2 separate regions of the Homo sapiens genome follow, and region 1 is linked to region 2. The links come from fine-mapping of genetic effects on gene expression. A gene starts in region 2. The other region holds a variant in brackets. All regions are shown on one strand. Distances are between the middles of the regions. Region 1 has its middle 48 kb from the start of RNF7. Region 2 holds the start of RNF7 (ring finger protein 7).

Region 1 (4,393 bases), 48 kb after region 2:
TCCTTACTCACAAAATTCAATTTGCAAATAGGACCAAACAGCTTCCTGTTCCCCTCATGACACCAGCACTTCAATACTATTTTGTTTTGTTTTTTTTATTATGAATATAAGAAGACAGGAATAGGCCTCGACTTACTCACTGCTGAAAAAGGAGGACGCTGCATATTTGTAAATGAAGAGTGTTGTTTTTACCTAAATCAATCTGGCCTGATATATGACAACATAAAAAACTGAAGGATAAAGCCCAAAAACTCGCCAACCAAGCAAGTAATTATGCTGAACCCCCTTGGGCACTCTCTAATTGAATGTCCTGGGTCCTCCCAATTCTTAATCCTTTAATACCTGTTTTTCTCCCTCTCTTATTTGGACCTTGTGTCTTCCGTTTAGTTTCTCAATTCATACAAAACTGTATCCAGGCCATCACCAATCATTCTATATGACAAATGCTCCTTCTAAGAAGTGAAAATGGCCGGTTCCTGCTGTAACTGATGACATTACCTTGTGAAATTCCTACTCCTGGCTCAGAAGCTCCCCAACTGAGCACCTTGTGACCCTCGCCCTTGCCCACAAGAGAACAACCCCCTTTGACTGTAATTTTCCACTACCTACCCAAGTGTTGGCAAAATAAACTTTCTAAATTAACTGAGACCTGTCTCAGATTTCCTGGGTTCACAGTACTTTTAGGAAAGAGATCCCAGGGAGCTCTCTAGCCTTCTTCCCACCATGAGAGAACACTGGAAAAAAATGGCCATCTATGAAGCAGCCCTCTCCAGACATTGAATCCTCTAGTGCCTTCATCTTGGACTTCTCAGCCTGCAGAACTGTGGGGAATAAATGTTTGCTATTTGAGCCACTCACTTTATTGTATTCTATTCTAGCAGCCCAAACTGACTAAGACACTGTCAAAAACAAATGATAACCTCACTTGATTCTTTTTTTTCCTTCCTTTAATAGACTTTCCAAAACTAGCTCTGCCCAGTGGAAAAGCTATATTAATAGCCTTTATTAGCCAATATCAGATAACAGAGACAGTCTGATGAATTTTCTTTTTTTTTTTTTTTGAGATAGAGTTTTGCTCTTGTCATCCAGGCTGGAGTGCAATGGTGCAATCTTGGCTCACTGCAACCTCTCCCTCCTGGGTTCAAGCGATTCTCCTACCTCAGCCTCCTGAGTCACTGGGATTACAGGCACCTGCCACTATGCCCAGCTAATTTTTTTTGTATTTTTTTTAGTAGAGAAGGGGTTTCACCATGTTGGCCAAGCTGGTCTCGAACTCCTGACCTCAGGTTATCTGCCTGCTTCGGCCTCCCAAAGTGCTGGGATTATAGGCTTGAGCCACCACACCTGGCCAGTCTGATGAATTTTCTTACTTTACATTTTCATTTGACATTTTGGATCATAAGAATTTGTAATTTTCTAATTCAATGATATTTCATGGAGGAGTTATAAGGATAATTTCCAGGACAGAAAACGACTGCAGAAAAACAGATGAATATTGAAGAAGAGAAAGCCAAAAGGTGACAAGCTTCATTATAAGGGCCAGTTGCCCTCCCCCAGACTCATGGTAGAGAAAAACATGAAACGGACTAAAACAGAACAACACAAATTTAGATTAGCCTCCACAAGGAGCTTCCCAAAGACTGTGTTCATGACCACGCAGTGATAATCTTGCGTTGTCTCTTTAGAATTTCAAAATGGTAAAGCTGGGGTGGAATTTAGGATCCTGTGAGTGAAAAGTTCTCATTTTGCAGAAGAGGATTCTGAGAGCCAGACATTAGTGGAAGTGTCAGGGATAGAATCTGGGTCCCTAATGCTTAGCTGCCCATCTTTAATACTTAGATAGCTTCTCATATAGTCTAACCCAGTTCAGAGGTTACGGAGTTGTTGATTTCTTCAAATTCCTTCTAGATTACACAGTTGCTGATTCTAAGTAAAAATCATAGGATGGAAGTCTGTGAGCTGAATTGATCAGATTCCACAGGCTGTTCATTGCAGAGATATTCCCAAACCAGCTGAGGCCCCATTACTCTTTTTTTTTTTTTGGAGTGTTGAATATGTCAAAGATGAATTCCTCTGATGGCCGTGGCAAAGCCATTTGGTGTTTGGTTTACATGAAGTCACAAGACATTGAGTGTTCTTTTTTCTCCACTTGAGTTTTTCTCTGTTTGGTGCAACTACTTAGTAGTGGAACACACAGCTCATGAAAGAAGGAAGTGATTTAGAAGATGAGGGAAGTGGAAGGAACAGTTGAAAC[G/A]ACAACAGAAAAAATACCTTTTTTTCTCTTTTTCTTCCCTGAAGTAGTTTTCACTGTTACAGCTTCAGACGATTTTGTAATCTGGTTCATAGTTGAACTTCCTCTCTGTTTGGCTGGTTGAAAAAAAAAAGACTTTTTAAAAAGTAGCCTGTTCAAAGTCAAATGAATGGGTTTCTGACACACCTTGATGTTGGTTATGGCCTTTATTTTATGTTCACTTTAGGCAGAGATATTTCTCACAAAAGAGAATGATCTGGCCGCTTGTCAAGATCACATTCACTTCAGTTCAGTCCTGTGGTTTTTTTTTTTTTTTTTTTTTTTGAGATGGAGTCTTGCCCTGTCGCCCAGGCTGGAGTGCAATGGCACCATCTCGGCTCACTGCACCCTCGCCTCCTGGGTTCAAGTGATCCTCCCACCTTAACCTCCAGAGTAGCTGGAATTACAGGTGTGCACCACCCCACTCGGCTAATTTTTTGTATTTTTAGTAGAGACGGGGTTTCATCATGTTGGCCGGGCTGGTCTCAAACTCCTGACCTCAAGTGATCTGCCTGCCTTGGCCTCCTAAAGTGCTGGGATTACTGGTGTGAGCCACTGCACCCAGCTGGGTCCTGTGGTTTTTGTGTTTCTTTCCTTAAAGTCTCAGGGTGAACATGCAACCAAGTAGAGCTCCAAGAACCATCCTGCCAGCCTCGTGTTGCTTCTTCTTTATGTTTCAAAGCTGCCGTCTATAAAAGTGACTCCAAAGCCCTGGAATTAGTAAGAATGTAGCAGGGAGGAACTCTTTTTTGGCATGTTTAAAGCAACATATTAGAACATATCACTCTGGAGTCATTCTGGACTCTTCCTTTCTCTTGTACCCTACATCCAATCCGTTAGGAAGTGGGATAATGCAGAGTCTGACTGCTTCTCGCTGCCTTCCCCGCTATTGCCCTTGTCTCACCTGGGTAGACAGCTCTCTCCTAGAGGTCAACAGCCACCCAACAGGCCTCCCTGCCCACCCGCACCCTTTCCTGCCCACAAGAAGAAAAGGGAATAATGTAAAAATTGACATATTACTTATATTTCAATTCTACTAATTCTGCAAAATCTTGTATTAAAAAGTATTTTAGGCCAGGCACAGTAGCTCAAGCCTGTGATCCCAGCACTTTGGGAGGCCAAAACAGGTGGATCATTTGAGGTCAGGAGTTTGAGATCAGCCTGGCCAACATGGCGAAAGCCCACCTCTACTAAAAAAATATAAAAATTAGCCGGGCATGGTGGCTTATGCCTATAATCCCAGCTACTTGGGAAGCTGAGGCCAGAGAATAGCTTGAACCCAGGAGGTGGAGATTGCAGTGAGCCGAGATCGCCCAACTGCACTCCAGCTTGGGTGACAAAGTGAGACTCCATCTCAAACCAACCAAAACAAAACAAAAAACAGCAAATAAAATTGTATTTCTACACTATAACAAGTAATTATGATTAAGAAAACAAACTTGTCATTGGGTCCTAAGGCATTTGGGCCCCTTTGGTTGTCATCAACTGAAAGCCCCTGTGGCTGACTCTGGCCAGAAGGAAGAGTTACCGAGAGGCCTGGGAGTAGCTCACAGAACAGGAGATCAAACATTTGGTCCTCAAAAAGCAGTGGTCTCAAACATTTTTGTTCCCATAACAACATAGAGGAATATTAAAAAGTTTATGGACCATCTTGCACATTTTTAGGTTAGTATCTAAGATTTTCAACGTCACTTTTTTTTTTTTTTTTTTTGAGACGGAGTTTCGCTCTTGTTGCCCAGGCTGGAGTGCAATGGCACGATCTTGGCTCACCACAACCTCTGCCTCCCAGGTTCAAGTGATTCTCCTGCCTCAGCCTCCCAAGTAGCTGGGATTACAGGCATGAGCCACCACACCCAGCTAATTTTATACTTTTAGTAGAGTTGGGGTTTCTCCACGTTGATCAGGCTGGTCTTGAACTCCCGGCCTCAGGTGATCCGCTTGCCTCAGCCTCCCAAAGTGCAGGGATTACAGGCATGAACCACCGGGCCCAGTTCATCATCACTTTTAAATTTTCAAAAGAGATTTTTAGATTATGGCAAATAGTGACATTTAAAAATAAAATCTGCTATATCATTCCCTTAAGTGTATCAAATGGAATATAAA
Region 2 (4,393 bases):
CAAAGTTTCAATCATTATTTCAGGTTATACATTTCCACTTACTCTTTAAATGTTTTTCCTTTGGGGAGGAAATAGCTTTTTGGGAGACAAATCTTTTGAAAATACCCTTTGGGAACATTATTTTTAAACTGGAAAGGAACTAAGTGAAAGCTTAGTTTCCTTTAAACTAAAGGAAATTTATTTAGGAGATAAAATGTTTAGCGAAACTTGTCTTAAAAAAAAAAAAAAAGAGTCTCCTGGATCAGTTAAAAATGCTTCCCAAACTAGAAATTATGATTCCTAAGTGGGGGTAGGGGCAGCTGTATTGCTGGCAAATAAACTAGATACTTTTAAAGCCTCATATGTTTTGTTTGTTTGTTGCTGAGACAGGGTCTCATTCTGTCACCCAAGCTGGAGTATAGTGGCAGTGGCAGTGGCAGGAACAAGGCTCACTGTAGCCTCGACCTCCTGGGCTCAAGGGATCCTCCCACCTCAGCCTCCAGAGTAGCTGGAGGCCACCATGCCTGGTCAGCTTTTTATTTTAATTTTTAATTGTACAGACAGGGTCCTGCGATGTTGCCTAGGCTGGTCTCAAACTCCTGGGCTCAAGTGATCCATGTAAAATAAGTGGGTCATGTCTAATATCAAGGTCTTTCAAAAGAGAAAGATAAAAATATCTGAATCCAATTGTTGTAAATCCTCTTTGAAACAAGCCCTTAGGAATAAAAGACAAAAGAGCATAAACTGCGAAATCTCTTGATTCTGGTATGTTTACAGTCTCACCCCCCTTAAGGTGAGCAATTCTCTGTATGTTCTCCAATTCTCTCATTTTTCAAGACAAGTCACAGTTTTCAAACGATAGAAATGTCCGTTTTCTTTAACTACCCTCAATAAAGAATTCCACTGAAGAGGGTCTCATAGTAATTTTAAATGCCCTATCTGAAAATACAACTTGCATTTAAATAGCACCTGCTTTTCAAAGTGGTCTGAGTTCTTAGAACCATATAAAATATAACAAGATTAAGCTGTTCTGAAAAGTTTCACTTGGTCTAATATTTTAACTCAAAATATCACAGAAAGAAGACATATTTGTAAGAGGGTTCTCCACAAAGGCATGACTCAGAGCAGCACAGTATCTTCTCCAGGAAATGGCATCCAATATGGAGAGGGGGGTGTGATGGAGGTGAAGTTTTACGTTTCTGAAAAAAGGGCTTACAATTCTTCAGCTTCCATGAAACTTAGATATTCTTGAACCACACTGTTCCCTTCAAGCCACGCTAGTGCTATCTGACCCGTCTTAAATCAATCCAGATTTAAAAGCCATTCGAAGAGCGGCGGTAAGCTAATCCGGAAATGCAATGGCTATGAACACTTTCCTGCGTCCCTCGAGGAGAACTAAGGGTGTCGTTTTGTGGAAGATGACTCTGGAGCATCACTTTGGTGGTGACCAAGACTATTAAAGTTCACTGCTGAATCACGGCCTTTACCCTGACCACCTTGTGTTGAGCTTTTAGAGGTGGGGCTGGGGCTGGACACACAAACCGAAGTGTTTCCTGCTAGTTCCCAACAATCACCCGGTTTTACTTTCTTGGTCACACCCATCACTACCTGAAATTACCTTGTTTAACTCCGTTTATTGCCCGTCTCTCTCCCTAGAACACCAACCACCCGGCGCAGGGCGCCTGTTGCACAACCCCGCAGCCCCAGGCGGCGGCCGCAGCCCTCAGGAGCCGCAGCAGGAGCGTGGCTCCGCGTTCCTCCGGCGCCGGGGCAGGGCGACCTCCACCCACTCTCCCAGGCAGGGCACTTTCCGAGGCTTCTGACGGACGCCCGTCCCTTCCCAACCCCGAGGTCGGCTCCCGGAGGCCGCAGGGCGGCCCTGGACTCGCGTGCAGCGCTTACCCATCACCTGGACCCTGCAGATGGCGCACGTATCGCACTCCACGTCCCAGCTCCACATGGCCACCGCGTTCCACTTCTTGAGGGAGAACATCTTGTCGCCTCCCGACTTGGAGCCTGAGCTCCCGGAGTGAGAGGCCAGGGCGCAGGTTTCCTCTCCGTCTTCCACGTCGGCCATGGCGGCGCCGCGGAGCCGACGGCGGAGACGTTGGCTTGGGGAAGGCGGAAGGCTAGGGCGGCTCTGTGGAGCCGCCCGACGGGCCACAGCGCCGCCCGCAGGCCGCCAGCCACCGTGGTGCCTAGACCCCGGCTGCCCACGATTGGCTGGCGCGGCACAGTGACGTCACCTGACGCCAGCGCCAGGGGGGCGGGCAGGCCCCGCCCTCGCCGTCCTAGGCCAACTGAGAGGGCTCGGGCCCTTATGGGGCGACGCCGCTGAATCTGCCTGCTGCGCTGCGGGGTGTTACGTCTGAGCAGGCGCACAGATTGTGCAGGGATATGTGTCCTGCTTTACGGCTTCATTAAACCTACTGCTCTCAGAAATTATCTTGTTAATTTATTCGTTTGTCTCTTCCCTCCCAAATGTAAAACTCTATCAGAGCAGGAAACATGTTGCTATCACCACATTATCCTCCGTATCTGCAAAATGCCTGGCCACAGGAGGCACAATTATTTGTTGAGTGAATAAATGATCTTAAAGATCTAGAAATCTGGTTCAGTGATTCTCAAAACTTTTTGGTCCCAGGACTCCTTTTCACTTAAAAATTATTAGGACCTTAAAGAACTTTTATTTATGTAGGAAATGTGTAAATATATATATATATACACACACACATATTATGTATGAATATATATACACATATACAATGAATATATGTATATTCATATATACATACATTTCCTGTATATGTATACACACATATGTAGAGATTAATGTTTGCTTTTGAAGAAATTAAAACATTTTAAAATGTATTCATTAAAAATCACAGTAGTAACCTCATTACAGGTTATCATTAGAGGGATGACTTCACATACCATGTAGTTGCTAGAAACTCCGGTGTACACTCGTAGAATGAGAGTGAAAAGAGAGAAATAGCTCTAAATATTGTTAGGCAACTAGTTTGCCCTCTTTTGACCGCTAAAAGAGGTCGGGATCCCAGGAGTCCCGGTGTGTGGCGACACAACCCACACTTATTTTTCAGGCCCCGCTCCCTCAGCTGCACAGTCTCCATTCCTTCTGCTCAGTACATTTGAGCTAGTTTAACTTCCTCTTTTTATATGTAGGACTAATGAGGTCTGAAGAAGTGAAATGACAAAGATCACATCGTTATTATAGTAGTGCTTCTACGGCTAGCCCACCATCACATGTGTTTCCAAGAAAGCCGGTATCTCCATTGAAAAGAAAACAGAAGCACAGCCAGCCTAAGGAGATGCCTGACCCCACCATCACCTAGTGGTGGACAGCTACTCTGTCAAGTTTGGATTCTGAGCCTCTCCCCATCCCCTCATTTCCTGATACCTGGGCAAAAGCTAACCAGACTAATGGAGCCTGGCAGGGGAAACAAGAATGCATTAATATACAGAAACATAAATATGGACACAGGGTCACATTTGGTTAGATGCAAATGCGTATTTGTTGAGTGGTGTGTTAAGGGCTGTGAGGGTACAGGATGCAGTGAGGGAAAGCCTCATGAGAGAGGTAGAGGATGCAGTGAGGGAAAGCCTCATGAGAGAGTAGAGGATGCAGTGAGGGAAAGCCTCATGAGAGAGGTAGAGGATGCAGTGAGGGAAAGCCTCATGAGAGAGGTGAAGTTTGAACTGGGGGAACATGGGAGGTCTTCAGGGCCAGTGGAGAGAGCAAACCTCTCTGAGCTGTTGGCCAGAGCAGGGCACAATGGTGGCAGCAGACAGGAATTGGACCACACCTACTTTATAAGCCAGACACCCATTGGAGTGAGCACACAAAACATGTGTTCTCTTCTTACTGAACGACCACACATCTGCCTAGAGATGGCTGTAAATGCTAGGTATCTAACAAAGAAGGAAGGCTGGCACCAGAGGAGGATAAAACGCACCCAGTTGGTGAGAAGTTTGAAAGTCAAAAGGATGAAATGGTGAAAAGGAAAAGAATGGTTTCGCTGGAGGAATGGTATGTGCCCTTGCTGAGGCATGAAATCTGGAGAGAGGTGTCTGCTGCAATGAAATTTAAAATAGAAGCCAGGAGGGAGCATAGGGGCGGGAAGTGGGAAGGCAGGTGGAGGAGATGAGTACAGTTTTGACACACTGCATGTCAGGAGAACTTTTTCTCCTGACAAAAAGAACAGGAATGAGTGATGCGCCAGAGTTCAGTGCAACAAGCAAGCATGCATGGGGAGAAAGGAAAGCAGGAGTGAGGCAGAAAGTTCAGGCTGCAGCAGCTGTTCAGGCGTGGTGGGGCCAACGGGTCCCCTGTGATTACCTTCCTTTGGTTCACCTTCATGAGGGCTTGTCTGCCATCATGAGCACCCAAAGGGCA

Evidence for each region. PIP is the estimated chance that this variant, and not a neighbour inherited with it, causes the effect. A credible set is the group of variants that fine-mapping cannot tell apart.
Region 1: its variant is the best candidate, but not a certain one, in a credible set for the expression of RNF7 in whole blood (GTEx, PIP 0.89).

What each region holds. Positions count from the first base shown.
Region 1 is chr3:141,688,406-141,692,798 of GRCh38, reverse strand. It overlaps the pseudogene LRRC78P. Among named protein-coding and RNA genes, the nearest start is that of RNF7, 48 kb to the left of the region's middle. The variant G/A (reference allele first, on the strand shown) is at 2,255.
Region 2 is chr3:141,736,005-141,740,397 of GRCh38, reverse strand. RNF7 (ring finger protein 7) reads right to left here and starts at 2,100. Exons shown (of 3, transcript NM_014245.5): 1 at 1,882-2,100. The coding sequence starts at 2,056. RefSeq lists enhancers at 949-1,627, 1,828-2,067, 1,628-2,307, 2,418-2,467, 2,508-2,557 and silencers at 1,628-1,807, 2,068-2,327.